Linked DNA regions of Homo sapiens: all the other regions are linked to region 2. A link means that fine-mapping ties the variant in region 2 to the expression of a gene that starts in the linked region. Tissue or cell type: whole blood. Region 2 holds a variant in brackets; each other region holds the start of a gene. Each region is shown on its reference strand, or each on the opposite one. Region 1 holds the start of R3HDM4 (R3H domain containing 4). Region 2 overlaps LOC105373411 (a long non-coding RNA gene). Region 3 holds the start of PAQR9 (progestin and adipoQ receptor family member 9).

Region 1 (10,178 bases), not on the chromosome of region 2:
ACGCTCAGCCCGGACTAGGAGCCCAGCCAAGGCGCGAACTCTAAGGCCTGTGAATATGGGAAGGGCTTTGACCCTCGTAGGGGCTGGGGCTCCAGGGGGTGGGCCCAGCCTGGCGGGGAGGCCAGCCCTCAGCGGAGACCCTGAGTGAGGATAGCTTGGGTTTGTCCCCAGGACCCTGGAGAGCCATGGAAAGTTCAGGGCAGGTGAGGGACGTCCCCGATCTGGTGGTTTGGGACTGAATGTGTCCCACATGACTGACAAGGGGTGTCTGATACCCGCAGGGACACTAGCAGCGGGAACCAGGTGGAGGGCACCTTGCAAACGCCACAGCCTCATTATTATTATTATTATTACTGATTTATGTATTTATTTATTTTTTTGAGACAGAGTTTCGCTCAGGTCGCCCAGGCTGGAGTGCAGTGGCTCCATCTCGGCTCACTGCAAGCTCCGCCTCCCTGGTTCACGCCATTCTCCTGCCTCAGCCTCCCTAGTAGCTGGGACTACAGGCGCCCGCCACCTCGCCCGGCTAATTTTTTGTACTTTTAGTAGAGTCAGGGTTTCACCGTGTTAGCCAGGATGGTCTTGATCTCCTGACCTCGTGATCCACCCTCCTCGGCCTCCCAAAGTGGTGGATTAGAGGCGTCAGCCACCGCGCCCGGCCTTTTATTATCATTATTGAGACAGGGTGTCGCTCTGTTGCCTAGGCTGGAGTGCAGTGGCATGATCTCGGCTCAAAGCAACCTCCGCCTCCCGGGTTCAAGCAATTCTCCTGCCTCAGCCTCCCGAGTAGCTGGGATTACAGGTGCCTGCCACCATGCCCGGGTAATTTTTGTATTTTTAGTAGAGACCAGGTTTCACCACGTTGGCCAGGCTGGTCTCGAACTCCTGACCTCAGGTGATCCACCCTCCTCGGCCTCCCAACGTGCTGGGATTACAGGCGTGAGCCACTGCTCCCGGTCCAGCTAATTTATTTTTAAATTTTTTATTTTTTATTTTTTTGCAAATAAAGTTTTTTTTTTAATTTTATTTATTATTTTATTTTATTATTATTATACTTTAAGTTTTAGGGTACATGTGCACAATGTGCAGGTTAGTTACATATGTATACATGTGCCATGCTGGTGTGCTGCACCCATTAACTCGTCATTTAGCATTAGGTATATCTCCTAAGGCTATCCCTCCCCCCTCCCCCCTTAAATTTTTTTGTAGAGACAAGATCTCACTAGGTTGCCCAGGCTTGTCTTGAACTCCTGAGCTCAAGCAGTCCTCCTGCCTCAGCCTCCCAAAGTGCTGGGATGACAAGCATGAGCCACCCAGCCTGGTCAGCACAACCTTGACTCCATAATCCCACAGCTGGAAGTGTACCCCAGGATGACATCCAGGAGGTTCCCCCAAAGTCCATCCTGCAACAGAGTCCAAGACATTTGGTCATCATGGAGTAATACACAGCGAAGAAAAAGGTGCTTCCATTTGCATAAAAAAAGACAAAAAAGGGAGGAAAAAAAATGAATAGGCCGGGCACAGTGGCTCATGCCTGTAATCCCAGCACATTGGGAGGCCGAGGCAGGTGGATCACTTGAGGTCAGGAGTTCCAGACCAGCCTGGCCAACGTGGTGAAACCTGGTCTCTACTAAAAATACAGAAATTACCCGGGCTTGGTGGAGGGTGCCTGTAATCCCAGCTACTTGGGAGGCTGAGGCAGGAGAATCACTTGAGCCCAGGAGGTGGAGGTTGCAATGACCTGAGATTGCATCACTGTAGGCTGGGTGACAGAGCGAGACTCTCTCAAAAAAAAAAAAGAAGAAGAAGAAGAAGAAGAAGGTACAGACAGGACAGGCCCAGGCCCCTGAAGGGAAGCCCTGGAACCCAGAATGGGAGGAAGGCCCAGGAAGTTCTCTGGAGTTGCCTCCCTCTCTCACGAATAAATGTTCAGGTCCATTCTTTGAGCATCTACCCTTACCCTGTGCCTGATGGATGGGGAAACCACTCATTCCCGATGCCCAGCTCCCCTGCCAGTCACTCCTGATACATCTCTCCATTGTCCTTTTTCACCTCTTTGCACATTTATCTACAGGAATCTCACAGTGCACGCTTTTTTGAGTCCATCCACAGTTTCTCATCCTTTTCTTTTTCCTCCTTACTCTTTCTTTCTTTTTCTTTCTTTCTTGCTTTTTTTTTTTGAGACAGCATCTCGCTCTGTCGCCCAGGCTGGAGTGCAATGGCACAATCTCGGCTCACTGCAAGCTCTGCCTCCTGGGTTCACTCCATTCTCCTGCCTCAGCCTCCTGAGTAGCAGGAACTACAGGCGCCTGCCACCATGCCCGGCTAATTTTTTGTATTTTTGGTAGAGATGGGGTTTCACCGTGTTAGCCAGGATGGTCACAATCTCCTGACCTCATGATCCACCCGCCTCGGCCTCCCAGAGTGCTGGGATTACAGGCGTGAGCCACTGTGCCTGGCTATTTTTTTTTTTTTTTTTTTTTTTTTTGAGACAGAGTAGTCTTACTCTGTGGCCCAGGCTGGAGTGAAGTGGACGGCTCCCTGCAACTTTTGCCTCCCATGTTCAAGCGATTCTTGTGCCTCAGCCTCCCATGTAGCTGGGACTATGGGTGCATACCACCACGCCCGGCTAATTTTTGTAGTTTTAGTAGAGATAGGGTTTTGCCATGTTGGCCAGGCTGGTCTCAAACTCCTGACCTCAAGTGATCCACTGGCCTTGGCCTCTCAAAGTGCTGGTATTACAGGTGCGAGCCACCGTGCCCAGCCTCCCTCTTGCTTTATTTTATTTTATTTTATTTTTTTGAGATGGAGTCTCGCTCCTCGCCCAGACTGGAGTGCAGTGGCACGATCTCGGCTCACTGCAAGCTCCGCCTCCCGGGTTCACGCCATTCTCCTGCCTCAGCCTCCCGAGTAGCTGGGACTACAGGCCCCCGCCACCACGCCCGGCTAATTTTTTGTATTTTTAGTAGAGAGGGGGTTTCACTGTGTTAGCCAGGATGGTCTCGATCTCCTGTCCTCGTGATCCGCCCACCTCGGCCTCCCAAAGTGCTGGGATTACAGGTGTGAGCCACCGCGCCCGGCCCTTTCTTTTTATTTTAGAGATGGGTTTTCATCATGTTGCCCAAGCTAGTCTCAGACACCTGGACTCAAGTGATCCACTGGCCTTGGCTTCCCAAAGTGCTGGGATTACAGGCGTGAGCCACCACGTTGGCCACCAGGCCTAATTTTAGAGAAGAGTAAACTGAGGCTAAGCAGGGGAAGGGGTTGCCTAGCCGAGGCTCCAGGGCTGGGAGGGGCAGGTGGAAGGAAGGCTCGGGCAGTTTTAATTTCCGCCATCCTCTGCCTCCAAGAAGAACGTCCCCTCCCTCGTCGATGCTCAGGCCTTAGTTTCCCTGTCCGTGTCTCCTCGCCTCCCTGGGCTGGATTCCTGGCTCAGTCCGCAGCCCGGATCGGGACGCAGGGTTGTGGTTGAGTTTTCGACCCCTCGCCTAGGTGTCCCTCCTTCCCGGAGCTAGATTTCTGGGTGTAGGGATCGTGGCCGGCCCCGCCTCCCGCCTCAGTCTCCCCGTTCGTCCCCCCAGGGGCTGGATCCCGGCCCCGCCTGCCTCGGTTTCCCCGTTCGTTCCCTGATGGCTGGATCCCGGCCCCGCCTGCCTCGGTTTCCCCGTTCGTTCCCTGTTGGCTGGATCCCCGCCCCGCGCGCCTCGGTTTCCCCGTTCGTCCCCCCAGGGGCTGGATCCCCTCCCCGCGCGCCTGGGTTTCCGCGTTCGTTCCCGGCAGCCGGGAGGTGGGCGCCCCCGCCCCGCCGCGCAGCCCCAGGCCCCGCCCCTGCCCGCCTCCGGGCGCCCGTCACTTCCTGCCCGGCCCGGTGAAGGCCCTGCCGGGCGGCGGCGGCGGCGACAGCGTGCGAGCCATGGTCGCGCTGGAGAACCCCGAGTGCGGCCCGGAGGCGGCGGAGGGCACCCCGGGCGGGCGGCGGCTGCTGTGAGCGCGGGCGGGCGGGGCGCGGCGGGCGCCGGGGGCGGGCTGGGCTCCCTCCCCTGAGATCCTCTCCCCGCCTCCCCTCCCCTCCTTTCCCTTCCCTCCCCTCGTTCCCTTCGTTCCCCTCGCTCCCGTTGCTCATCTTCCGGGGCTTCAGCCTGTCCTGCCTTCCCTTCTCGCCCGCTGTGGACCCCCAGGCTGGGTGGGGGGTCTTCATTGTTACTCAGCGGGGACACCCTCCTGGCGCTCCGGGGGCTCGCTGGGGGAGGGGACCCGGATCCACGTCCCCATTTACCTGTTCCGCCCCCTACTCCCCGGTCCGCCCCCTAATCCCCGGTCCGCGCCCCACTCCCCGGTCCGCCCCCCCACTGCACTGGTCCGCGCCTCCATTCCCGGGTCCACCCCCTCACTCTCCGGGTCCGCCCCCCAACTCCTCGGTCCGTGCCCCCACTCTCCGGTCCGCGCCCCCACTTCCCGGGTCCGACTCCCCCCACTCCCGGGTCCGCGCCCCCCCACTGCCCTGATCCACGCCCCCACTCCTGGGTCCGTCCCCCCACTCCCTGCTCCACCCCCCCACTCCCCTGGTTCTTGCCCCCATTCCTGGGTCCGCCCCGCAACTCCTCGGGTCAGCCCCCCAACTCCTCGGTTCCACCCCCCAACTCCCTGGTCCGTGCCCCTACTCTCTGGTCTTCGCCCCCACTCCCGGGTCCGCGCCCCCACTCCCGGGCCCGCCCCCCAACTCCTCTGTCCGACCCCCCCACTGCCCTGGCCCACGCCCCGACTCCCGGGTCTGTCCCCCCACTCCCCAGTCCGCCCCCCAACTCCCTGGTCCACCCCCCCCACCTCCCCGGGGCCGCGCCCCCACTCCCGGGTCTGTCCCCCCACTCCCCGGTCAGTCCCCCAACTCCCTGGTCCGCCCCCCACACTCCCGGGTCCGTCCCCCCACCTCCCCAGTCCGCCCCCCAACTCCCTGGTCCACCCCCCCCCCCACCTCCCCGGGGCCGCGCCCCCACTCCCGGGTCTGCCCCCCCACTCCCCGGGCCCCGAGGTGCCAGCCATGGAGCCTCCCGCCAGAGGGTCCTGGGCCCCTGTCCGCGGGTCGGGGTTCACCCACGTGGCCATGCGCTCCAGCCTGGTCCCTGCCGCACGCCCGGCCCCACTCGCCCTCTGGGCTTGTCCGCGCCCCCTGCCTTTCCGGGCAGACCCGGCTCCTTGCTCTCCTTTGGGTAAATCCCTACAACCCTTGTGGGTTAAAACCTGGCAAGCAGGAGCCCGCGCGTCCTTCCCGGGGGACCCGGAAGCGGGGCGGTCTGTGCGGGGGTCAGCCGTGTGTCACCCCGGCCCGCACAGGGACCCGGGGACCCAGGGTGCGCCCCTGGGGTCCGTGTTGGTGGAGGGCGAGGAGGCGGCGCGTGTTCCGTTCCTGCCTCCTCCGTGTGCGGACGGCGCCACCTGGGCAGGTTATTTCATGCTTCCATGCCTCAGTTTCCCCTTCTGTAAAATGGGATAGTAAGTGTGGCCTCTTCTCCGAGTGGTGGGGGTTACCGAGCTGGCACTGCGGCGGGCCCAGCAAACAGGAGTGTCCGTTGTCTCATTACTAATTATCGTTAATGTTTTATTGGTTATTTTAGTAGTATTAATATTTTGAGACGGAGTCTCGCTCTATCGCCCAGGCTGGAGTGCAGTGGCACGATCTTCATTCACTGCAACCTCCACCTCCTGGGTTCAAGCGATTCTCCTGCGGCAGCCTCCCCAGTACCTGGGATTACAGGCGCCCGCCACCACGTTCAGCTAATTGTTGTATTTTTAGTAGAGATGGGGTTTCATCATGTTGGCCAGGATGGTCTTGATTTCCTGACCTCACGATCTGCTTGCCTCGGCCTCCCAAAGTGCTGGGATTACAGGCGTGAGCCACCGCACCCGGTCTTTAGTATTATTTGTATTTATTTATTTATTTGTTTATTTTTTTGAGACAGAGTCTCACTCTGTCGTCCAGGCTGGAGTGCAGTGGGGCGATCTCGGCTCACTGCAAGCTCCGCCTCCTGGGTTCACGCCATTCTCCTGCCTCAGCCTCCCGAGTAGCTGGGACTACAGGTGCCCGCCACCGCGCCCGGCTAATTTTTTTGTATTTTTAGTAGAGACGGGGGTTTTGCCGTGTGAGCCAGGATGGTCTCGATCTCTTGACCTTGTGATCTGCCCGCCTTGGCCTCCCAAAGTGCTGGGATTACAGGCGTGAGCCACCGCGCCGGCTAGTATTATTTTTAAATGATCATTTATTACTATCATCGTTATTATGTTTATTATATCATCACTATTATCTCCACTCAGAGGCCATACCCATCTCTACCGAGGTGATTTGTATCTGAAGGAGAAAGGATGCGTCTTTGATTGGTTGATTGGTTAATTGATTGGAGACAGAGTCTCGGTCTATTGGCCAGGCTGGAGCAGAGGATGCTTTTTTTTTGTTTTTGTTTTTGTTTTTCATATTAGAGACAGGGTCTTGCTAACTTGTCCAAGCTGGTCTCAAACTTCTGGGCTCAAGCCATCCTGCCTCCTCGGCCTCCCAAAGTGTTGGGATTACAGGCGTGAGCTACCACGCCCGGCCTAGTAGTAGTATTATTAATACAGGGTCTCACTCTATCACCCAGGTTTGATCACAGCTCACTGCATCCTCCACCTGCGGGCTCAGGCGATCCTCCTGCCCCAGCCTCCCGAGTAGCTAGGACCACAGGTGTGCACCACCATGCCGGCTATTTTTTTTTTTTTGAGATGGTTTCGCTCTTGTTGCCCAGGCTGGAGTACAGTAGTGCGATCTCGGCTCACTGCAACCTCTGCCTCCCAGGTTCAAGCGATTCTCCTCCCTCAGCCTCCTGAGTAGCTGGGATTACAGGCATGTGCCACCGCACCCAGCTAATTTTGTATTTTTAGTAGAAACGGAGTTTCTCCATATTGGTCAGGCTGGTCTCGAACTCCCAACCTCAGGTGATCCACCGGCCTTGGCCTCCCAAAGTGCTGGGATTACAGGCATGAGCCACTGCGCCCGGCCTGGCTAATTTTTTAATTTGTTGTAGAGACGAGGGTCTTACTATGTTGCCTAGGCTGGTCTCGAACTCCTCGACTCAAGGAATCCACCTGCCTTGGGCTCACAAAGTGCTGGGATTACAGGCGTGAGCCACTGCACCCACGTAACGTCTCCTCTAAGGGGGCCTTGAACCACCTGGTGTGGGCATTTACCCTCAAAATGGGCTCTTCTTCCTGAGTCTTCTGTTTTTTTTGTTTTTGGTGGGGGTTGGGGGGACAGGTTCTTGCTCTGTCACCCAGGCTGGAGTGCAGTGGCGCGATCTCAGCTCATGGTAACCTTTGCCTCCCAGGTTCAAGCGATTCTCCTGCCTCAGCCTCCTGAGTAGCTGGGATTACAGGCATGTGCCACCACGCCTGGCTAATTTTTGTAATTTTAGTAGAGACGGGGTTTCACTATGTTGGTCAGGCTGGTCTCAAACTCCTGACCTCAGGTGATCCACCTGCCTCGGCCTCCCAAAGTGCTGGGATTGCAGGCGTGAACCACCACGCCTGGCACCCTGGTCTTGAAGCCCAGGTGTAGTGACTCCTATGTAACTATGTAAATACACTCATGTTTCCGCTCTCAGCCGTCAGTCTCTGGGTGTTTACCTGCCAGCTGTGTCCTGGTGGGGGGTTGGGGACTGCTGGGGGCCGCCGCAGTCTGCCCCACCCCAGGCTGAGTCACCTCCGCCCTGAGCCCTGGCTTCCTGATGCACAAGTCGGTTCCTCTCTTGCTGTCTCTAGTGGGTTCCTGGGGGAGGGACCAGTGCTGGGAAAGGTGTGTTTTTGCTCGAGGGACTGAGGGTTCACAGTTCCCCTCTCAAAATCTGCAAGGAGTAGAATTGGGAGTGGCCGGGAGGCCTGTTCCCCCAAACTCCAGCAGCTCCCCAGCTTGGGCTGCCCCCCTCTTCTGTGGACACACATCCTCGAGCCTTCAGGGTCCAGGAAGCCTCAGATACCCCCGCTGGGTCCTCAGTTTCCTCGTCTGTAAAGTGGTCTTGTTGAGTGGCGTGGGAAACAGATGAACCAGCCCTTGGGAGGTGTGTCAACAGAAGTTTAGTTCTTCATTCAACAAACAGGCAGTGAGCGCCGCTGTGGGCCGGTCACAGGCCAGGACCGGGGGGCGGCGGTGGGCGGGGGGCGGACCCTGTCTTGTTCTGTGGGCCTAGTGAGCTAGTGATTAAGGAGCAAAGAAGTAAACGGGCCGGCTGGGGCCGGTTGGTTTCCAGAGCTTCCTGGTAAGGCTGACTGGGCTAGGTGGGGGGCGGGGCCGTTCCTGGGGGTGGTGAACACAGAGCTGAGGCTGGAATGAGCAGGTGCATCAGGCAGAGACCGGGGCTCCCTGAGTTTGGAGCACTGTGAGGAGGGGCCTGTGGCTGGACGTGGGATTTTTTTATTTTTTATTTTATTTTTATTTTTTTTGAGACAGTCTCATTCTGTCACCCAGCCTGGAGTGCAGTGTTGTGATCTCGGCTCACTGCAGACTTCATCTCCCAGGTTCAAGTGATTCTCCTGCCTCAGCCTCCTGAGTAGCTGGGACCACAGGCGCCCACCACTATGCCCAGATAATTTTTTTGTATTTTTAGTAGAGACGGGAGTTTCACCATGTTGGCCAGGCTGGTCTCGAACTCTTGGCCTCAAGTGATCCACCTGCCTCAGCCTCCCAAAGTGCTGGGATTAGAAGTGTGAACCACTGCGCCCGGCCAGGCATGGGGATTTTGATGTGGTCTTCCTGTTCCTTCCATTTCTGGAGAGGAGTGTCGGTGACTCCCAGGCCCCCCTGTCTACCCCAGAGGCCAGATGTTTTTTTGTTTTTGTTTTTGTTTTTGTTTTTTTGGGAGACAGAGTCTTGCTGTGTCACTCAGGCTGGAGTGCAGTGGTGCGATCTCAGCTCACTGCAACCTCCACTTCCCAGGTCCAAGCGATTCTCCTGCCTCAGCCTCCCAAGTAGCTGGGACTACAGGCGTGCGCCACCACTCCTGGCTAATTTTTGTATTTTTGTAGAGACAGGGTTTTACCATGTTGGCCAGGATGGTCTCCATCTCTTGACCTCATGATCCGCCCGCCTCGGCCTCCCAAAGTGCTGGGATGACAAGCTTGAAGATGTTTCTTAATTTCCTGCTGGAAACTGGTTGAAGTCAGCCAGCTCCATCTGATGGTGGGACTCGATTTCCAGTGCTCAGCTCAGCACTAGAGACCCAGGGGAGGGTGGCGAGCCCTCAGATACCAAACAAAACAGGCGAAAGCCCTCGTGTTGCAGTGCTAGGCCAAGGGGGAGCCAGGCCTGGCCCTGGGATGCTGGGGAGCCATGGGCTGTGCTGGAGCAGGGGAAGGACCAGGCAGGTCCTTGTGGGCCTGGAGGAGAGGCCTGTGGGGCTTTGGTATGAGGGGTGGTGAGGGAAGCAGGGTAGCTCTGGGGTTCTGGGTCAGACCCAGGTTCACATCCAGCTCCTTGCATTGTCTGGGTGGTGACGGGGGACAGCCCCACCTCTCCAAGCCTCAGATCCTTCATCTGTAATATGGGGTGATACCAGGCCCCTTGCTGGGAGGGCTTGAGCTGTGTCACCGAGCCCCGCCCCCTCTGACTTCCCCGAGGGCTCCCCTCGGATGTCACTTCTGTTATCGGCCCTGTCCAGCTGCTGGGGTGGAGAAGTAGGCCCCGGGGCCTCAGGGGGGGCTGTGGGTGAATCTGGGGCATGGGACAGAGTGCTCCGGCCTCAGGGAGGCAGCTTCAGGCTGATCCAGCTTCAGAGACGCTGGCTTAACATGACCCTGTATTCCCACTGAGTACCCGTCGGCTGCTGTGCTCTGTGCTGAGGGCATGGTCCACCACCTCCTTCTCCAGCTGCCCTCTTTGCAGCAATGGGAGCTTGGGCGGTGACTTTGTGCCTTGGTTTACAAATCTGTATAATGAGGGCCGGGCGTGGTAGCTCATGCCTGTAATCCCAGCACTTTGGGAGGCTGAGGCAGGCGGATCACTTAAGGTCAGGAGTTCAAGACCAGCCTGCCAACATGGTGAAACCCCGTCTCTACTGAAAATACAAAAATTAACCAGGCGTGGTGGTGGGCGCCTATAATCCCAGCTACTCGGGAGGCTGAGGCAGGAGACTCGGTTGAGCCAGGGAGGTGGAGGTTGC
Region 2 (10,905 bases):
TGACATCATCTCCATTGTACCCTCACACTTAGTTGATAATGGGTTTGGTACAGCATTCAGGGTTGGAAATCATTTTCCCCTGGATTTTTGCTGCATTGTAGTCTAGCATCCAGGATTTGTCTTGAGAATCAAAATTATTCTGATTCATGATCCTTTGTAGAAGACCTATTTGTATCTCCCTGTCAGCTTGTAAGATTGTCTTTTGTCCTCAGTGTTTGTAAATGTTATGCGGGTGGCTTAGGCTGGGTATCTTTTCATCTGTCATATGGGCGGGTGCTCATTGGGTCCTTCGGGCTAGAAATTAATGTCTTTCAGTTCTCTGAAATTTCCTAAACTATGTCATGATGCTTTCCTTTCCCACCTTTTCCTTGGTTTCTCTCTCTCTCTCTGGAACTCTGTCTTCATATGTTGAACCCCTTGAACTAATTTTACATTTTTTTGCTCTATTTTCTCTATTTCCTCTGTTTTGTCTTCTAATTTTTCGAATGAACTTTACATTTATAACACGGCATTTTAAGCTTACAACTATTCTTTCTGTTCTCTAAATATTCTTTAAAAAACAAACAAACAAACAAACAAACAAACGTGTTTGTGCCTGGATGCCATCTCTGATTGTCTATCTGAGGATACTGATAATAGCTTCCTGTTTTATACTCTCTCTTCTCTATGCATAATCTCTGTTTCCTCCAAGTTACCTTCTTCTCTTTGTTTTGGTCACGCTCTCTCATGTCAGGGGCTTTCTTCAGCTGAGACCCTCAGTCACTGGTTTATATTTAAGAGTGGGGCATGAAAAGTTGATTGGAAGCACTAAATGTGTGATTAAGATTGTTGATTGTGGACTTCCTTGTAAAAGAATCTGGTTGGACTATTTTCCTGGGGAACTACCAATATCGGCATCTTTAGATTTTTCCTCTTGCACTGGCTTGAGCTCAAAAAAGCCCTTTAATCCTCTCTTGGAAGTGACAACCTAGACGTTCTGAAGGCCGAGAGAGAGAAGAGGGCTGGAGCAGGGCTATCGCAGGTCAATATTCCATATACAAACCTTCCCTTAATCTGCTACTTCTGTGTGGTGCCTTGACCTTCAGCTGTGCCTGGGATCTCCCCAACTAGAGACCTGGTCTCCTCTCCAGAGAATAAGCCTTCAGTTTTTTGCTGGTGTCGGAAAGGGGATTTGTGCACCTCACTACTTTGTGAGCAGGTTCCTTCTCATTTTCAGAAGTTGTGGACACCCCCAAATCCTGAGCCCTCTTTGGGTTCCGCTGGTAAACCTGGCTGCTTCTTGGCAGGAATGCCCTTAGACCTGGGCCACGGCCTCAGAGAGTGTATGTTCCCTCTTCTAGCTGTGCCCCTTCTCAGGGGCCAAGAGGACATGCCCACTCAGAGTGCGCACCTCATTCCTCCTTCTAGAACATTCTCCAGGGAAAGGAGGCCTTGGAATTCCCTGTCCAAAGGATCCCAACCCTGCTCCCTGGGCCCCGGGGCGGGGGGGCTCTTTCCAGAGCCCTCCTTCCAGAGTGGACCATGCTGCCAGTGTGAGCCACCTAGGCTGAGGAGTGGCTGGGGGCAAGGGGTTGTGGGAGGTTTGGATGGAGCCATGCAAGCTCCCTCAGGTGCAGGATGGAGCTGGGCTGGGAAGGAAGGGGAATGGGCCACGATCAGGGATCTTCCCATGTTGCTGTGTTTTGGTGCCGAACTGAGAAGTCCAAGGAGGACTATCCATTTGAACCTGCAGTTAAGGGTTGAATTGTGTCCCCTCAAAAAGATCCATTGCAGTCCTAACCTCCAGTTTCTCAGGACATGACCTTATTTGGAAATAGGTTCATTGGAGGTATAATTAGTTAAGATAAAGTCATACTGGAGTCGGGTGGGTCCTAGTCTAAGATGATGGGTATCCTTATAGGACAGCCATAGGAAGATGGAGGCAGAAATGTATCTCCAGGCCAGGGAGCGCCAGCGAGTGCCGGTCATCATCAGACACTAAGAGACAGTCCAGGAACAGATTCCTCCCAGCCTTCTGAAGGAACCAGCCCTGCAGACGCCTTCATCTTGGACTTCTAGTTTCCAGAAGTGAGAGAATAAACGTCTGTGGTCCTAAGCCGCCCAGTGTGTGTACTTTGTCATGGCACCCTAGGAAACTAACACATGGGCCTTTTACATCACCAAGAAGGTATATTTGTCAAAGCAGAGAATAGAAGGATTTTTTTTTTAACCTTTAAATAAAGTCTATGACCTTAGTGTAGAATTTTCTCTTTATGAGTGAGGGCACGTGAGCTTCCTCCGCTGCCCCTGCTCAGGCCTCCTTGAGTGCGAAGGGTGAGTTGGCTTCTTGGCTCCCCCCAATCCTGGTGTAGGGCTCAGCTGTATCCTGCGTGCTCAGCCAGCCCCCACGCACTCTTCCCTTCCCAGCCTCCGGCATTTTACCAGTGTGTTCTCCCGAGATTTTGCTCCTGGAGGTTCCGTCCCAGTGCTGTTCAATAGGATTTTCTGTGATGCTGATGGAAACATTCTTTTTCTATGCTGTTCAGTATATCAGCCACTAACCCTGTGAGGCTGCTGAGTGCTTGAGATGTGGCTAGTGTGATCTGGAAGCTGAAGTTTAGAATTGATTTAATAAAAAGGTAAATGTAGCCCGTGTAGCTAGGGGCTACCACATTCCATAGCACAAAGCTACACTGTAAAATAAAACAAAACAAAATGTTTGTCTTTGATGGATTTAGAGAGAGAATGGAAGTAAAGGAACGTGTTTCATCTGCCATCTTTACCCTAGTATCTCTTGTGTGTCTTAATTTTTATTTCAAAGAGATTTTAGAACTAAACTAGCAGTGGTGAGTTTAAAAAAAAGTCCCGGCTCTCAGATGCATAGTAGGGTGAACGCTGGTGCTTGGTTCTGTGTGCAAGGAGGCAGCTTTCGTGGCCATCCCTCTTGTCACAGGTAAGGGCAGGCAGAGGCTCTGTTCGTGGTCACAGAATGAACCTGGGGTCTTTGGCTCCTGCCAGGTAGGTTTGCAGCCTCCAGGGACCTCGCCAGGCACCCTTCATGACTCCTAAACACCAAGCGGGTGTCCAGGCCCTGCGGCCACCCGGCTGCTGGAAAACAGATTGGGTTGGTAAAAATATGTGTGTGTGTTCTCACAGAACCTGAGAAAATCACACCTCCACTTTGACAAAAAAATCTGTTTGTGCAGCTCCAATAATCACTTCCTAACTGGTGGGATAGCAGGCCATATGTCTGTGAAGTGGCTAGCTGACGAGACATTCTACCTCCGTTGCGCCTCGCAAAATACCTTTTTCTAGCAGATCAGCTCTAAAATAAAAAGAAATGAAGCCACAGGCTTCTGCTTCCAAATGATGCTTCTGAGGCAAGGCAAGACAAGGCAAGTGGTTCCTGGAGACACAGGAGTGGGGGCTTGGAAACGGGCCTGGTGGGGCTTGCGACTCCGATGTGTTTGGGGTGAGGGAAGCCAAGTAGGATTTTCAAGTTCAGGGGCTGGTCCCGTGTTGGGGGAGAGGTCCCTACTGAATGGCGAAGGAGCTGTCTGCAGAAAGTCGGACTTGTTTGGGGGTTTGAATTTTGGAGGAGACCGCCCCCCGGCCGCCCCTCCTGGCATTCCAGCTCTTGCAAGGTGTCTAAACACCTTGCGCTCATCTCGCACCAGTTGTGAAATTCCATCAGGCTTGAATAATCATAGGAAGCCGCTCTGGCATCCTCATGACCTAAGGCAAGCACATCTCCATGTCTGTGTGTGTAGGGGCTTCCCTTTGGACTCCCCTCCGGGCCCGCCAACCTTTTTTGAGTGTGTGGCTCACAAATTTCACCTTGGAGGTGACCACCGTCCCTCGGAAGCTCATGTACACACAGAAAAATGGCAGTCCCTGGAAGGAGCTTTTCTTCTCCCTGCATCCTTTCCCCAGAGTCAGCTGGAAAGATCTAGAACGACAGACACCCTTCCCCGCCATGCTGTTTCTGGAACAAGCTTGTCTTTCCACTATTCACTTTGCTGCCTTAGGTAGAACCACATGTCATGTGTCTTGCTTTTCTCATCTGTGACTCCAAAGGGTAGTGTCAGAAAAGATCAAGTTAAGAAATGCAAAATCATTTTAATAAAGTTATTGACTTTTGTGCCCATTTCAGTATCATATTTAAAAATTCACATTATGGAAATAAATCTGGGTTTTCAGTTTGCTCTGTGCAGTACGCAAGATGCCTCATTCCCTTCCCTTTTTTAAGCGTTTGACATTATTTTATGGCCTGAATTCAATGACTATTCAGAAGATCTGAGAAGCAAACTTTACCTGTTGGATTTTTCGTTATCCAACAGGGAGGACTTGATAAAGGAGGATGGTCTGTATTTGTCAGAGCAGGTGCTGTGGTTGTAGCCAGTCTTGCCGACTGCCATGAGCTGTTAACACTTGCTCATTTTTAAAGTCCTGCTCAAGTTCCGTCTGTGCCCCAATCCCAGGAGGTGTCTATGGAGCCCTGTGACTTTGCTCTTGTTCATGCATCAGATTTCTGATGCTGCTGGTGATCGGAGGAACAGGATGCTCATCTAGCGCGAGCTCACTGACCACGGTGGGAGCAGGAGCTGGAGCTGATGGGATGGAGAAGGGAGCCCCGGCGAGAAGAAGGAGAGACAATTTACTCCAGAACCCGGCAGAGACACTGGCATGCAAAGGTTAGGCCTGGGTCCCCAGGCCCTGCGTCAGTGTTTCTTTCTTGATCTCTTCCAGCAGGAGGGA[G/A]TCTCCCTGTGAACTCCCTCACACATTATCTGCTCCTCTCCCTGGCACTTACCAGTTATCTGTCTGCTGCAGATGAGTTATTTCTGAACTTGCCTTATCTTGCTCCTGGACTGCTTTAGCTCCTGAAGGGTTGCGACTGTCATAAACACTTTGTTATCTTCTTCGGTGCCCAGCCAAGGGCCTTGCACCAGGGCCACGTGCAGAGGGCACAAACCTCTGGTCCCTGGGCCATGGGGCTGAATGGTTTCTGACACCAGCAGGCTGGCACACTGGAGAGGCTGCGGCAGCCCTAGTTGGCTGCCATCTTAGGGAATTGGAAGCCTCTGGGGTGGGGTCGGGGGAACGTTGCTCTGGGAAGGTCTTGGCAGTTGGAGGTTTTCTTCTCCATCTCTCACCATGCCCTTTGCTCCTTGGGGTTAGATGTCTCTGCACCAAGTGCCACCTCTCTCTGCTATATCTTCTCCAACCTCCCCTCTGCTGCGCTTTTCTGCCATCTCTCTCTGTTTGGCATGAGCATCTCTCAACTCAGCATCTCCCTTACCTCCCTCCTTCCCTTCTGGGCTGGGCTTCTCCCGGGGACACCCACTGCACCTTTTATGTCTCAGACCATGGTATTGGTGCCCGCCCTCCATCCCCTGACCCGGCTTGGCTCTGTATGCCCCTCCAGGGCCTACTGTGTGCCACATCCAGGGCGTGCATTTGGTCTGCATCAGACTTGCCTGTTGATCAGCATCTTGGCATTGATCACCCTCTCCTCATTCTTCCCCTTCCCGAATAGCAGACTCTTTCTGGCTCCTTCACCGGCTCCTTCTCCTTTTCTTTTCCTTGTGCATTAGTGTCCTTTGCCCTGCACACTCCAAGGCACTCCCAGACACTCTCTTTCCTTCCACAAGACATCAGCGACCACCTGGAGGCCAACAAACCCAAGTCCACAGCTCTAGCCTTTTCCCTGATGCTGCTTCATGCACGTATTGCAGGGGGTTCCTGCTTGTTGCCTAAGCTCATCAAACACACTTGTCTAAGATAGAAGTACTGACTTAGCACCCAGCATCTCCTGCCACAGTTAATGGTGCCACCATTCACCTGGTCATCCAGGAAGTCACCCCTAGACTCCTTTCTCTCCCCCAGTCCTGCTCATTCTCCAAGTGCCCCAAGTCCTCCTGGCGTAGTCAGGTGGGCTAGGTCATGCTGCTGTAACAAATATCCCTGCAATCTCAGTGGCTGAACACAGTGTCTGGATGGCCGGGCTGGTCTTCTGGCAACTCACCTCTAGGTCACCACTCTGGGATCTCGTCTAATTCGAGCTGTAGCTCTGCCATCTGGAACCAGTACTTCTGAATTTGCTGCAGAAAGTAAGAGCAGATGAGAGGGTCCTGCAAGATGTTAAGGGCCAAGCCTGAAATGGGTTACATCGTTTCTGCCCCATTCTATTAGTCAGAACTCAGTCCTGCGGCCCCTCAGCTCACTGCAAAGGAGGCTGGGAAATGCACTCCGGGAGACGGTCTCCTCCCCGCGTGCTCAGGGAGGGGAAGGGATGTGGTGCCTCTGCAGTACTGCCGTTAGGGCCCTGATCATCTCCTGTTGGACTTACGAGTCTCCTTGCTTACAGCCTCTGTCCTTCCAATCTAGCTTCCTCCCAGCAGCAGGAGCAGCCAGTCATTCTAAGCTGCGGATCTGACCACACCACCTCCTGCTAAACCCCTTGCTCTTGGGATAAAGTTGTGGCTGGACCCTCTCAACCTCTCCAGTCACATTTCTTACCACCCTCCCCAACACAGCCTTCTCCCCAGCTACAACAAACTCCCCACATTTCCCCAAACAGGCAGTATTTCACAAGGCTCCCCTTGTCCCCTCTTTGCCAACAGGGGTTGTCCCTTCCAGAACAGGCTCGGATCTGTGTTCCGGAGTCAGCTCCCCAGGCCCCCCTAGGGTTCATCTGTGCCCACCCACTGTAGGCCAAGTCTCGGGCTCCCCATGCGGGGTTTCCAAAGCCCTTCATGTGCCCTCATTAGGATACTCTTGGCATTGTTAGTTATTGCTTTTCAGAGGGTCTGACTTCACCCACAAGCCAGAAGGGTAAAGCCTTACTGTGCGGCCTCCATTGTGCCGAGAGCACCACATGCTTTACTCACTGGAGCCTTAACATCACCCTGTGAGAGGCACTGCTAGGGCTTCCATGTAACATCATGGGGAACCAAGGCACAGAGATGTCAAGGAACTTGCCCAAGCTCACACAGCCAAGTGGTGGAGGCAGGTTGGCTCCAAGTCCACATGTGTGACTACTGTGCTACAGGGCCTATGACCCACAGCCCTCAGCCACATGGCACCTTCATCTCCGTCTCTGCAACCCAGAATGCTGGTCCAGAGTGCATGGACACTCACAGGCAGTTGAACACACATGAGCAAGTTCCATTTTAAAGCTTTCTTTTACTCTGTCCTCTGCCTACTTCCATCCATGCTTCCATTAGAAATTCCCCCTATGGGCCGGGCACGGTGGCTCACGCCTGTAATCCCAACACTTTGGGAGGCTGAGGTAGGTGGATCACCTGAGGTCAAGAGTTGGAGACCAGCCTGGCCAACATGGCGAAACCCCATCTCTACTAAAAATACAAAAAAATTAGCTGGGGGTGGTGGTGCACACCTGTAATCCCAGCTACCTGGGAGGCTGAGGCAGGAGAATTGCTTGAACCAAGGAGGCAGAGGTTGCAGTGAGCTGAAATTGCGCCACTGCACTCTAGCCTGGGTGACAAGAGCAAAACTTTGTCTCAAAAAACAAACAAAAAATCCTCCCTATGGTTTCCTTCTCAGTTCAGTTCAGGAAGCAAGAAAATAAATCCATGAGACTCTCATTAGATTTTTTCAAACAAAGTAACTTGATCTTATCCCTGGAAGGGAGCACCATGCCTCGGACACAGTTACTCCAGAGATCTCATCCCTGCCTCAACTATTCTGAATGGCTTCTTTGGGAGGTGGTTGCAGAGACAGCTTACTGATCACACAGGAAAATGATTGCCATGACCTTCTATCACTATCTGCGCAATACAAACAACATCAAAGGGACTCTCCCATACTGTGTCTACTCATGAAAAGGGCTTTGCCAGCATCTCTTTAAGTAAGTGTGCAGAAATGATGTCCTTCAAAATCCCTGTTCCCCACGTGGTTGCCGTGACATGGAGACGCAGAGGGGGACAGTGTTGCTGCTCAGGGCTGCCCTGACAAAGGGCCGCAGACTGGGGGCTCCAACAACAGAAGTCTGGCTTCTCAGAGCCCGGAGGCAGGAAGTCTGAGATCTAGTTTTGGTGGGTGTGCTGCTTCTGAGGCCTCTGAGTGTGGCTTGGAGGTGGCTGCCTTACCCCCTGTGTCTCCCCGTGGTGTTCTCTCCATGTGTGTCTGCATCCTAATTCCTTTATTTTTATTATTTTGGAGAAAGGATCTCACTATGTTGCCCAGGTTGGCATGCAGTGGCACAATCACAACTCACTGCAGCCTTGACCTCCCAGGGTCAAGTGATTCTCCCACCTCGACCTCCTGAGTAGCTGGGACTGCAGGTGCATGCCGCCACACCTGGCTAATTTGTATATATATTTTTTTCCTTTAGAGATGGGGTCCAACAAAGTTGTCCAGGTTGGTCTTCAACTCCTAGGCTCAAGCAATCTGCCTGCCTTGGCCTCTCAAAGTGCTGGGATTACAGGTGTGAGCCACTGTGCCTGGCCTTAATTTCCTCTTTTTAAAAGGACACCAGTCAAATTGGATTGGAACCCACCCTAATGACCCTATTTTAACTTAATCTCCTCTTTAACAAACGTTTCTCCAAATGCAGTGACTTTCTGAAATACTGGGGGTAAAGACTTCAACATATGAATTTTGGGGGTCTCAATTCAGCTCCAAACAGGCCCTAATGGAAGCTCTGGTCACTTGCTGCTCTGCGTCCAGCACCTCCGTGACCCTGGATGAGTCCTCGCTCGCTGGGTTTCAGTTTTCTTATCACCAACATGGTCGGGGGGTGGTCAGACAAGCTTACCCAGGGCCTTTACAGCTTGAAAACTCCGCAGTAACCTATAAAAGCATCACTCCAGGAAGATATATTGCTTTTGTGACCCAGGCAACACCACAAGGGCTTTCAGCGTTCAAGGCCATGCATCCATAGTGTGCTCTGATGTTTCTCAATATTTGACGACAAACTTTATGATCGCTGTTGGCAGGTTAGACATTTCTCCTTGGTTTGAAAGTAACAGCAGCGTGGTCTCAGTGGGAAACGTCCTCAGAGAAATGTTTGATCTTTTCTGGTGTGTTCAGTTCCGAGGTGGAAGACCCCGACCACTCATTGAGGGAAGGGAGGTGTCTGATACTTTTTAATCAAACAAAGGCATTTTCTTTTCAGGGTGTCTCTCTATACAAACACCTTTGATAAAAGATCTTGATTTGATCTTTGGTTAAAGATCAAAGCCCAAATAAACCCACCAGGGAATGAAAAAGATCAAGGACAGCACAACCCTCTTCTTGTGGGCACAAAGGCGGGCTGGCTAGCACTTTGCACTGCTTGGCCAGCCAGGAGCCCATCTGTGACTTCCAGGATCCCAAGAGTCACACAAGGCTGTGGGAGCTTCAAAAACAAGCCTGAAGCAGAGGCCCTTAGCCCATCCTCAATCGGGCAGCAGTGTGGTAGGGTTGGTATTCTCCCCGGAGCTCTGCCTTCTGCTTTGCCACACGATAGCCGTATTGGACCTGGCTGGTTTCCTTCCACTGGCGTGGATGGAGAGGAGAGGCACGGCCCCCAATGGGACCAAGGGTCCCCTTCATAGTCTCACCTTGAATGAGTTGCTTTAGCCTTCTCCCTCCTTCTTGAAACTGGTCTTCAAATCCAGCTCTACATATTTGCACAGTGACATGGTTTGTCTGTGTCTCCACCCAAATCTCATCTTTAATTGTAGCTCCCGTAATTCCCATGTGTCCTAGAAGGGACCTGGTGGGAGGCAATTGGATCATGGGGGTGGGTTTTTTCTGTGCTGTTCCCGTGATAGTGAATAAGTCTCAGGAGATCTGATGGTTTTATAAAAGGGCAGTTCCCTGGCACACACTCTCTTGCCTGCCACCATGTAAGATGTGCCTTTGCTCCTCCTTCACCTCCGCTGTGATTGTGAGGCCTCCCCAGCCATGTTGAACTGTGAGTCCATTAAACCTCTTTTTCTTTATAAATTACCCAGTCTAGGATATGTCTTCACAGCAGTATGAAAATGGACTAATTCATGCAGACAGCTGAACTTTCCAGATTCTAAGTGTCCTTTATCCATGAAATTGCAATATTGGTACCCAGGAGGCAGCTGGGAGGGATAAATGAGGTCTATGTGCACAGAGCTAGGTGCACAATACATGACAGCTAGTATTACATTCTCTTTGAGAATCCATTAATTTGGGTCAGATTGGACGTGTCTGGACATTGGGGGGAGTTTCCTGTTGGGAATACTACATGTAGCTATTCTTGAGCTTAGCACAGTCATCTTTGTAATCAACGTGTTTGTAGGATTTTACAGATTTCACAGCACTGTTGCACGCCTTATCTACTCTAACCCCCTCCGTTGTACTGCGAGATCCATCTTGTTACTTCTGTTTTACATGAGGAATATCCTGAAGAGATGGGGGCTCATGGGGATCACCTGTCCAAGGCCCTTCAGTTATAAGAAGACAAAGACTCGAGGACAAACACAAACTGATGGTCTGTACTTCTGTATCCCAGAAACTAGGCTTGTTTTACAGTCTTCATGTCTCACGACTTTCTTGCAAAAAAACCCTGCGTCCGGCTCTGTGCATGCCCATGCTGAATGCTGGAGGATTTCCACATCCAACACAGAAGCTGAGTGGGCTTCAGTTTATCTGAACATGCTAGTTTATAATCCATATTGGAGGTGCTGTGCAAGTATTTTGAGTTAGAGTAATTACTTGGCTTTATTGAGGTGTGTCCTCCTTACCTCATTAGTAAAATCATTCGTGCACAATCTGCTGAAGAGAAACATGCATTAAAAACTGAGATGGATTGTGGCCCCATGAGGCCAAATTATTCGAGGCTCTGTTTGGCCTATTTTCAATGTCTGCAAAGGACCAATACCTGCTTCTGTCATGGGAAATAGTAGATTGATTGAGAATATCCATAGTTGGAATTCTACAAGGCAT
Region 3 (10,905 bases), not on the chromosome of region 2:
GGAAGCTGTGTAAGACAGTAAGTCTCTTTCCTTGAGATGGTCAAGGCTCGCTACACAACAGCTTCTCAGGAGGCAGCATCCTATAAAGAAAAGGGTAAGGGGTTTGGAATGAATAAAGTTTGACTACAGTTCTGCCACCCAAGCTGCTTAACTTCTTGAAGCCTCTGTGTTTTTTGTCTGAAAATGGGATTAGTGCATTCACCTTTCAAAGAATGTTCTAAGAATTAAGTATATGTAAAACGCCTATCACAATACCTGAATATAGTACATTATCAATAAACCAAAGCAATTATAACGAATGGGAAGAGAGTTGGACTAGATGACTTTAAGGATTAAGTGGCAGTCCTACTCTAAGATTCTAGGACTCTAAGTTCTAACCTTTTAAAAGCTTACGGTACTGAAAAAATTTCCCAGCCACAATGTGTTAAGTGCTTACTATGTGCAAAGATCTTTGTTTCAAGGAGAACTGTTGATAAATAATGGGGAGAAGAAACTCAGTAATCTAGCTCACACACTTGTATTAAGTGTTTCTCAAGTTAAATGGAAGCTATCCAAAAGGCTCTATCAAAAGCAAGCAACAGCCTATGATAAAACAAGTCTCCTCCCCAAAAGGTAACTCTGAATTACATTCAATATAGTAAGTTAATACAAGGCCTTTGTAGGAAAACAATATAGGCTCCAATCAGGAAACAGGAAGGGCAGACCTGGGAAAAACAGCTCCAGAGCAGAGACCACCATCCTAGGTCAAGGAAGCTGTAGAAGGGGCTGAAGGCCTGGGCACTTGGGCAGGTCTGGTCAGAGGTTGGGGACTGTTGGCTTACAGATGGTGACCCCAAACAGCCTTTCCAGCCATCTGAGTGGCAGGAAATGGCATCCATCTTGGATCTGGGAGAGGGGATGGAAGCAGGCTGGACAAACAAGAGCAATGGACTATCGAGAGTAGGTCAGCAGTTTGGGTCGCACATTCTTATCAGGTGAAGTGTTTTGGTTCACCCTCGTGTCCCAACATATTATTTATACATTATCTTCATAGACTACATATTAGTGCATCATAAAACCTTCACAGAGCATGTGCATGGAAAAGGATGACATCTATTTAAGCAGAAGTAATATTTTATTCTTCCCCTTCATTAGTCTTGTGAAACCACTCTAGAGACCCCAGGAAGAAAATAGGTGAATTTGCTGAGGGAGGGGAGTGTAGCATTGTCACTCCCTTCATAAAGCCTTAGAAAACCAAAAAAAAAAAACCCCCCACCCCCAAAACAAAAAGCATCCTCAAGTTTCCCTTAGCTTTTCTTCAAAACAGATGCCTGTCAGCTGGGCGCAGTGGCTCACACCTGTAATCCCAGCACTTTGGGAGGCCAAGGTGGGCGGATCACTTGAGGTCAGGAGTTCAAGACCATCCTGGCCAACATGGTAAAACCCCGTCTCTACTAAACATAAAAAAATTAGCCGGGCATGGTGGCATGCAGCTGTAATTACACTTACTAGGGAGGCTGAGGTAGGAGAATTGCTTGAACCCAGGGGGTGGAGGTTGCAGTGAGCCGAGATCATACCACTGCACTCCAGCCTGAGTGACAGGGCAAGACTCCACCTCTAAAAACAAAAAACAAAAAAACAGAGAGACATGTCTGTCACCCAGTCAGTAGCAGGCAGGAACAGTGCCAGATAACTCAGTCTCCCACTGCTCTCTCCCAGCCCTCTACCTGGCTTTCTGATTGCACTTGTCACTAGAGGTTGCTACAGTTACACCTGATACCATTAGATTTTCCACAATTAGGAAGCTTAGACTATATGACTTGGTAGTGACTATATTTGACCTGTCAGATCATGGCTGTTTTCCATTTAGGGAAAAGGGAAGCACTTTGTTTAAACTATATATATATATATATATATATATATATATATTTTTTTTTTTTTTTTTGAGACAGAGTCTTGCTCTGTTGCCCAGGCTGAAGTGCACTGGCACAATCACAGCTCACTGCAGCCCCTGCCTCCAACGTTCAAGTGATTCTCCTGCCTTAGCCTCCCAAATAGCTGGGACTACAGGTATGCACCACCATGCCTGGCTAATTTTTGTATTTTTAGTGGAGACAGGGTTTCGCCATGTTGGCCAGGCTGGTCCCGTACTGCTGACCTCAAGTGATCCACCTGCCTTGGCCTCCCAAAATGCTGGGATTACAGGCGTGAGCCATCGTGCCCAGCCTAAACTATATATTCTGAGAAGAGGGACTGAACCCTACAGAGTTCTCTCTTAATACAGAGTCTTGGGTACAATTAAGCACTAGGTCCATAGTGCTGTGCTTTTCTTTCTTCCTTTCCTTCCTTCCCTTCCTTCTTTCCTTCTTTTTTCTTTCCTTTCTCTCTCTCTCCTTCCTTCCTTCTCTCTCTCCTTCTTTCCTTTTCTTTCTCTCCTTTCTTTCCTTTCTTCTTTTCTTTTTATTTCTTTCTTTAGTTGGTTGTTTTCTGGCTAAAAATTAGACAAGAAAAAATTATTTCCTCTAAAAATAGGTATATTATTAGCCAATAACACAGCATATTTTTCTGCTGGTTTTACAGATAGCTAACTGCCCTTACTAAACAACATCAAATTTGCAGTGGCATTTTTACATATACTTAATATTATTCCTGTAGAAAGAAACAAAAACGTGTAGTTGGTCTACAAGAACATTACCAAAGCAAACCAGACTGAAAAGAGCATTCATCCCTTTTGCTACAGTTTCAACACATGACACATGACTGCATTTTGCAGCCAGGACCCCTCAACACCTGGATGTACAGAGCCTCCACTGAACTACCAACACCACATTTGTGGTCTTGATTTAACTTTAATTGATAGAACTAGCTGGCATTTGCCTCTAAATGCCAGCAGTGGCTTTCCAGTGTAACTTGGTGATTCTTGTCTGTCAAAAACTTTGCAGTCAGTCCTGGTTACCTTAGAGATGCCTTATGTCCCAATGCACCTTCAGGGAATGGCACCCTGCTCATTGCTTCTGTTTAGCCAAGTCCAGAGGATGTGAGCATGGTTCCCACTGACAAGAGACAGTTTGCTGGAGTTAAAACAAACTACAAAACTCAGCCTGTGCAGGATTTGGGGGCCACATTTTTATATCTCAATTTAAAAAGTAAGAGAAATTAATTCTATAGATTGGTAGCAATTAAGGAAAAGCCATATTGCTGTTTTACTTTATAAGTTAGGTCAGTTTTGCTGTTTCCTTAGTTCCTTTTTACTGAGCTTTGTCAAGGTATAGCAAGGACAGCTGACTGGGCTCTGCACCAGTGAACTTTCATGAACACCACTCACTCCATGGCATCAACTGGTTTTGTGCCTCAAGCAGGGTAGGGGATGTGTGAGAAAGGACAAAGGCAGATATCACAAAGACTTTTTCAAAGACTTAACATGAAACATTTTTTTTTTACTTTATAAAATACTGATTTTTTAAAAGAACATATTTTATTAGAGTCAATCTCACCATTCTTTGTCATAAAGATATTTTATCTAACTCAAGTTTTTGCATACCCATTTACAGTCAATTCCATTGTTTTGCTTGAAGTGAACTTTCTATTATATTTTTCTAGATTATGTAAGCGAGCTGATTATGCAACTAAGAGTGTGGTAAATATAAGAATTATTATAGGATCACCATTTTTACACGTGACAGCTCTGGTTGTTTGTGGAGTAACAAAGGGAATATGAAAAAAAAAAAAGTTCGGGCCTGCCCTGGATTCAAGTTTATCATTCCTACACTTGATTAAAACACCTAAATTTAATCCATTTTACAAATAGCCATGGGTCCTCAGTCCAGATATAAAAGGAAATTAGATTTCAATTTAAAACAAGCTACAAACAGTGGAAAACCAGAAAACACTAAAATAAGACACTGGCTAAATAACTACAACAAAATCTCACTTCTTAAAAATCCACGCCTAAAAAAAAAAATCCACTAGACAGGAATGTGTGGCAGTGCAGAAAGGCAGAAGACTGAAGCGCACGTTTGATCTAATTGTGTAAGAGCTTGCTAAATCAGTTACTACTTGAAAGTATACTTCAGAGAGAAGACTGAAACTTCTAGACTGTTTCTAGCATCCTTAAGTAACTGCAGACACTTATAATACTGAATGATATCCTAGTTATAAATAATTCTTATCCATAACTTAAATCCATCTTGAGGCTCTACTAAGTAAATCTTCCTTAACCTACTTAGAGGATGTGCAGTAGCGATGAAAGTAGCCTTTCTTTTCTTTTTCTTTTTTTTTTTTTTTTTGAGACGGAGTCTCGCTCTGTCGCCAGGCTGGAGTACAGTGGCGCGATCTCGGCTCACTGTAACCTCCTCCGCCTCCTGGGTTCCAGCGATTCTCCTGCCTCAGCCTCCCGAGTAGCTGGGACTACAGGCGTGCGCCACCACTCCCACATAATTTTTTGTATTTTTAGTAGAGACGGGGTTTCACCGTGTTGGCCAGGATGGTCTCAAATCTCTTGACCTCGTGATCTGTGTGCTGGGAGTACAGGCGTGAGCCACCGCGCCCGGCCTTAAGCCCCTTTCTTTAAGGCTCAAGGGCATATTTTCACACTGCAGTGCATCACAACCGTTTTCATTCTTCCAGTGTTCCTTTCTTCTGGTCTCCAGCCACCTGCCAGGTACTTCTGATTAATTACATATAAGATTTATCCAAGCCACCCCCTCCGTTTCTACCAACTGGACTTCATTCTCTTCAGTTCCTGCTAGAATGCACCTCCTACCTGAAGTCTTCCCTCATCAATGCCCTCCATGATCAGCCTTTGACTCTGGAATCCCTTAATATATTCCTCAGATCATTAGAGGTTTTCTGAGTCATCATCTGAGATTTTTCATTAAATTGTGGAGTTTGAGCAGCCAGTCCTGAGCTGTCGGACTCAGTTCCAAATAGAAGTCCTAGTTAAAGACACAAAAACAAGAAGATGGGTTAGCTGCGGCTCGAAGAGCTGGTGAGCGCGACCACAGGGCAGCTTGCGGACGGTTCTTTCGGACAGGACAAGGGCGAGGGAAACGGCAGAATGGTGACGCACCTGAGTGCGCCCACTAGACGAAAGAAGACCAACTAAGCCTTCGTGTAGTGCGTAGACAGGCCGACACACACACACACACACACACACACACACTAACACACACGCAAAGACAGTGAGGGAGCGAGAGGCGCATCCCCAGGTAGCTGACAATGACACGGCCCCGATCCGGACGCGGGCTTAAAGCCCCCCGACTTCCGGAGTGCCCCCCTCCCCGGCGACCTCCGGAGATTACCGCTGGCGCATCTCTCCGCCCTGCCCGGCTCCGGCGCCCTCCCCTCCCCCCGCAGCCGCAGCTCCCCGCCCCCCGCGAACGCGGCTCCCCAGTGTCCTCCAGAACGCCCGCGTGGCTGTCGGGTTTCGAACCCCAGGGCCGACTCTAGTACTCGGCGCGCGCGCCGCCGCGTCGCCGACCAGCCTGCGGCCCCCGCATCAATCATTAACGGGGCGGCCCGGGCTGCGGCGGCCCGAGGAGGGGGATGGTACGGAACTCGAGACAGGGGACAACTCTATCCCCCGAAGCGGCCGCGAAACCCTAGCCTGGGAGGCCCCCGCCCTTCCTCGGTGCGCCCGTCCCTCCCTCCGCGCCTCGGCTCGCACATCCCCACCTCCCGCTCCGGGGGCGGCGGCGGCGGAGGCACCCGCACCGCGCGATGCCCAGTCACCGCTGCCGCGCTGCCGCCGCAGTCAGCCGCGCCGCCGCCGCTGCCGCAGCGCGGGCGGCCGCGCGCCGGTAGCAGGGGCTTGGCGAGGAAGCCGCTGAGCCTCGCGCGCTCCGCGCTCCTGGCGGTCGCAGCGCTGCCTATTAATTGATTCTCTTATTGATTTATTTAATTTTTAGGAGCGGCTGCTCGGAGGCACGGGTCTTCTCCTAAACCTGCAGCGACGCCCCCGGCGTGGGCACAAAGGCTCCGACGGCGGCCGGCGGGGGCTGCCCAGCGCCCGGGAGCCGGCGCCAGAGGTCGCCTGCGCGCGCCCTAGCCGAGCCCCGGGCACCATGCCGCGGCGCCTGCAGCCCCGGGGCGCGGGCACAAAAGGCCCTCCGGCCCCGGCCCCGGCAGCTTCGGGGGCCGCCCGGAACTCCCACTCTGCCGCCTCCCGGGACCCCCCAGCGTCTGCCAAGCCGCTGCTGCGCTGGGACGAGGTGCCCGACGACTTCGTGGAGTGCTTCATCCTGTCGGGCTACCGGCGTCTGCCGTGCACGGCCCAGGAGTGCCTAGCCTCGGTGCTGAAGCCTACCAACGAGACGCTCAACTTCTGGACGCACTTCATCCCGCTGCTGCTGTTCCTGAGCAAGTTCTGCCGTCTGTTCTTCCTGAGCGGCGGCGACGTGCCCTTCCACCACCCGTGGCTGCTACCGTTGTGGTGCTACGCGTCGGGAGTGCTGCTGACCTTCGCCATGAGCTGCACGGCGCACGTGTTCAGCTGCCTGTCGCTGCGTCTGCGCGCCGCCTTCTTCTACCTGGACTACGCGTCCATCAGCTACTACGGCTTCGGCAGCACGGTGGCCTACTACTACTACCTGTTGCCAGGCCTCAGCTTGCTGGATGCCAGAGTCATGACTCCATACTTGCAGCAGCGCCTGGGCTGGCACGTGGACTGCACGCGCCTTATCGCCGCCTACCGCGCCCTGGTGCTGCCTGTGGCCTTCGTGCTGGCGGTGGCTTGCACTGTGGCCTGCTGCAAGAGCCGTACCGACTGGTGTACCTACCCGTTCGCGCTGCGCACCTTCGTCTTCGTCATGCCGCTCAGCATGGCCTGCCCCATTATGCTCGAGAGCTGGCTCTTCGACCTGCGTGGGGAGAACCCCACACTCTTCGTGCACTTCTACCGCCGCTACTTCTGGCTGGTGGTGGCCGCCTTCTTCAACGTGAGCAAGATCCCCGAGCGCATCCAGCCGGGTCTTTTCGACATTATCGGCCACAGCCACCAGCTCTTCCACATCTTCACCTTCCTCAGCATCTACGACCAGGTGTACTACGTAGAAGAGGGCCTGCGCCAGTTCCTCCAGGCGCCGCCTGCCGCACCCACTTTCTCGGGTACTGTGGGCTACATGCTGCTGCTGGTGGTCTGCCTGGGGCTGGTAATCAGGAAGTTCCTAAACAGCTCCGAATTCTGCAGTAAAAAGTGAGCCTCCGCCTTGGAGGAGACTACTGGTTCGCCCATCTGTTTGGAGTTTCTGTTGTTGCTATTGTTGGTTTGTTTTCAAATTTCATTGTGTTTTCTTCTTTGCTCAAGGAAGGTGCTGCAAAACCATAGGGAAAAAGTTCACTGCTACAAAGGGATCCCAACCCACTGGAGGCTTTGAAGTAGGGAGGTTGGCAGGGGTGGTCAAGCGGGAGGGAGATAGTCACTTGTTCTTGCCCCTGGAAAAAATTCAGGTGATGTCTTTGACATCCAGGGATTTCTCAAAGGCAGTGAGTAAAATCCCAAATAAAGCCCCAAAGAGTTTGCTTTTCCAATCATCTGTGCCATTGGTAATAAGGAGTAGCCCCTGTGAGGTCAGGTACACAGTAAAGAGGGTAAATAGAATCCTTGGGAACTTCTGTTTCAGTCTGAGGAATGCTTGGATTTGTCAAAAGAATGGAGCTTTGTAGGAAACAGGCACAAAGACGCAAACCCAGGGCTTAACCTGCTAGAAAATGCATGGAATGTGAACACAAGTTAATTATTTCAAAATGTTTTTCAGATGTTATTTAAATAGTAATATATACATTGATTTTTCATAATTTATCAAAGCCTGTGGTACGCACTGAATTTTCTTTGTCACATAGTTTTGAATTTCACAGCCTTCTGCATTGCATACACTTGAACTGGACATCAGGGGAAGCTGCTTGAGAGTTCTCAATTACTTTCTTAAACAGTGTTTTCTGAAGGCGTGTGTCATGATACAACTGTGAATTCTACCTTAGGGACTCTGGTTAAACTATTGGTGAGGAGCTCGAGTGGTTTGTATAGACCCCAGATTTTTGTTTACTTTAATGTATTCCACAAAACCCATCCTGGTTTTTGTTAGTTTGTTTTGTTTTTAATCTTTTTTTTTCCTTCTCTACTTATTTAAATTGCCACTGGAATAAATGTGCCTTTTGAAGCAAAGTCCAAATGACTGGTCCTCAAACACAGTTTCTTACATGGGGAGAGTAGTAAGAATAAGCTTTTCTTACCTGACTGAAAATCAAGGTTTCATGGTCCATCCAGGAGGGCAGAAGATGGTGTTGGTTTCAAGTTTTTGGTGGGATTGGAGATAGCTTACAGGAGCGTGCAGAGCATTTGGGTTCCCAACAAGGACAAAGAGCCAACCCTCTAATGTAGATGTGTTTCTAATGCAGCCATGGGAGAAGTTCTAGACTGATGCCATCCATCCTTGCTTAAAATTAAAAACATAATATCCAAGAATAAACAAGGCAGTTTTATTATGAAAGGCAGGAGCACATTATTGAGTTGTCACTGAAAATTTTGAGTTAAATAAGATTACACTTGCCTAGTTAAACGCTGAAGTTTGATTTGGTTCCAGACTATGGAAATGATGGGCAGTCACCCTAAATCCTTGAAACATTCATGAGCATGTCCCTGAGATCCTTTCTAACAAACAGATTAGCCAATGTTATTTAGACATTTCTTACAAATGCTAACCTGTAATTGAGATGGCCACTCTAGATTAACACAAACCACTGAGATGACTTGTTTAAATACTTACCACACTTCCTGGTAGGTCATTTTGTTAGAAGCCAAATAAGTCATTGATTGGGAGTTTTTTTTGTTTTGTTTTGTTTGGAGACATGTGTGCCTTTACTGGCTCAGCAGGAGGAGTGGGTGGCCCTCATACCCAGCCAGCTGTACTTCACTGGCTTGTAGGTGATGGAGAGCTTGCCCAGGTAGTGGTGGCTTATCTTGGGCTTGATCTCCACTGCCTAGTTGAAGGTCTTGGGCAGGATGATCATGTCCCACAGGTGCATCTTGATTTTATGATATAACTTAGATCATGCATATGAGGTAGATGAACACTTACCTCAGCACTGGTAGGCTGGCACTTCTAAAACAATTGCTGGTTTTGTTTATGCTTTTAATCACTTCTCTGTAAACAGAGAAGCTCAGCACAATTCCCTGGAGGAACCGGTATCCTTGTGTGTGTTACTTTGCACATAGAAGTTAAATTTATATATGTCTATATTTAATTTAGAATCTCTTACTGAGATTGTAAATACACTTTGCACAGTTGTTGACGAGTGTCAGTGTCTCATCCTTTGTGAAGTGCAAGGAGATTCCTGTTAGGTTACAGAGGCTAATTTGTACTTACAACAGATGTTATTCCTCAGCTGTAACTTAATTCAATAGATGCATTCAAGGACAACTGTGGAAATCAGGATATTTCCACATGCAAATTTATTTGCATGTCATTGTTGTTTTTTCTAGAGCCCCAAAGAACATTGGTTTGGAAGCTAGAGAAACAGGGTGAAGCGTATTATGTAGTTTCTTTGTAAAATGGGACCTCAATTTCAGAAGGAACTTTCAGGAGGAAGACTTCTAGCAAGGATTAATGAGTTTGAGAACAATAACTAAAACACCAAATTTGTCATTTTAATTTTTTGTTGTTCTTCCAGGTCCACAGACAGAATTCTCTTCTTGTCCTTTGTCTTTGACCTTAAGGAGAGGCCACTTAAGGATAAAATTATACCCATATCATTTTTCAGGTGATTATGCTGCATGAGTACAGTGAGATGACACACTTTTTGCCACACAGGTTTCAGCACCCAGTATGTCCCAGAGAGAATGAGGATTCACTTTCCTCTTCCCTTTGCCTTTTCCTTCGTCCACTGTTCTTTCCTATTCCATCTTAGATTTTGTAGACCACATATAATAATGACAAGAGGACATTCTAGTTGAAAACTGGTTTGGCTTCACTTCATGTTTGCAAATAGGTACCATATACACTAGTCAAAGCCAGGGATGATTTGTTAAACTATACAGTTTATTTGCTGAATTTATTAAATTTCTTGATGTTTTAGAAGTGAATATTTACTTTGAATCTCCCCATTTGCACGGAACTATCCAGGTTTATTACACATTTCAAGGTAATGTGGCAATCAGAACAATATATATTTTAAAATATTTTTCACACTTTCCATTTTGCCACATTAAAATTCAGTTTTACTTTATTGTGTTCAGCTGTTTGAAATGTAGGACAAATTATAAATAAGAATTCAGTCCATTATCTATGTACAACCTATTTTGGCAGTAGAATTTTGAAGCATATTATGTAATATGTTTCATTTTTACTTGTTAGTCATGATCTGGATGACATCTCAAGGAGCGGCGCCATAGAGTCATGCCTGGAAAATGAAGGTGTTTGACTTCGGTGCCTGTCACCCCGTGGGTTGGTCTCTGGGGCTGACTCAGACTGACTTAGTTGGCTAATGGGGTTCCTTTCTTCCCTGCCGTTCTTGCAGCTCAGGTGAAGAGGATGACCTTCCCAGAGAGAGGAAATGAGTTCCTCGGTCATGTCATGACTGGCTTGTAAAAATAAATGTGAACTTTTCCACTAGCCATACACTTTCTATAAATAGCCCAGGGAGAAAGTATGGGGCTACAGAGCTGGACAGAGTGGCCTTCATATGTTTCCATTCATAAATCCAGCTTGTAAGTGCTTGCAGTCAAAAAACAATTTAGCCTAATTTATAGTGATACTTCATAGGAATCATTTCTAAGAATGCAAAATTTTGGGACAGAGGTGATTTATATCATTTTTTCCTGATTTGGTGCCAACTCTGAGGACTAACAGCAATAATAAACAGGAATTTTTATCTTTAAATCTCTTCATAACTTTAATTAGTTAATCTGCACAAAGCTATAATAGGAGACAG

What was found. PIP is the estimated chance that this variant, and not a neighbour inherited with it, causes the effect. A credible set is the group of variants that fine-mapping cannot tell apart.
Region 1: it holds the start of R3HDM4, and the variant in region 2 is the best candidate, but not a certain one, in a credible set for the expression of R3HDM4 in whole blood (TOPMed, PIP 0.80).
Region 3: PAQR9 starts here. The variant in region 2 is the best candidate, but not a certain one, in a credible set for the expression of PAQR9 in whole blood (TOPMed, PIP 0.71).

Annotation. Positions count from the first base shown.
Region 1 is chr19:906,893-917,070 of GRCh38, reverse strand. It overlaps R3HDM4 (R3H domain containing 4), which reads left to right and starts at 3,852. Exons shown (of 8, transcript NM_138774.4): 1 at 3,852-3,984. The coding sequence starts at 3,914. RefSeq lists a silencer at 3,695-4,034 and an enhancer at 7,508-7,802.
Region 2 is chr2:8,609,886-8,620,790 of GRCh38, reverse strand. All of the region lies in intron 1 of LOC105373411 (a long non-coding RNA gene), which reads left to right. Among named protein-coding and RNA genes, the nearest start is that of LINC01814, 32 kb to the right of the region's middle. The variant G/A (reference allele first, on the strand shown) is at 4,738.
Region 3 is chr3:142,958,473-142,969,377 of GRCh38, reverse strand. PAQR9 (progestin and adipoQ receptor family member 9) reads left to right here and starts at 5,704. Exons shown (of 1, transcript NM_198504.4): 1 at 5,704-10,905. The coding sequence starts at 6,042. The coding sequence ends at 7,175. PAQR9-AS1 (PAQR9 antisense RNA 1) reads right to left here and starts at 5,320. Exons shown (of 5, transcript NR_125393.1): 1 at 5,280-5,320; 2 at 4,742-4,913. RefSeq lists a silencer at 6,490-6,675 and an enhancer at 9,871-10,905.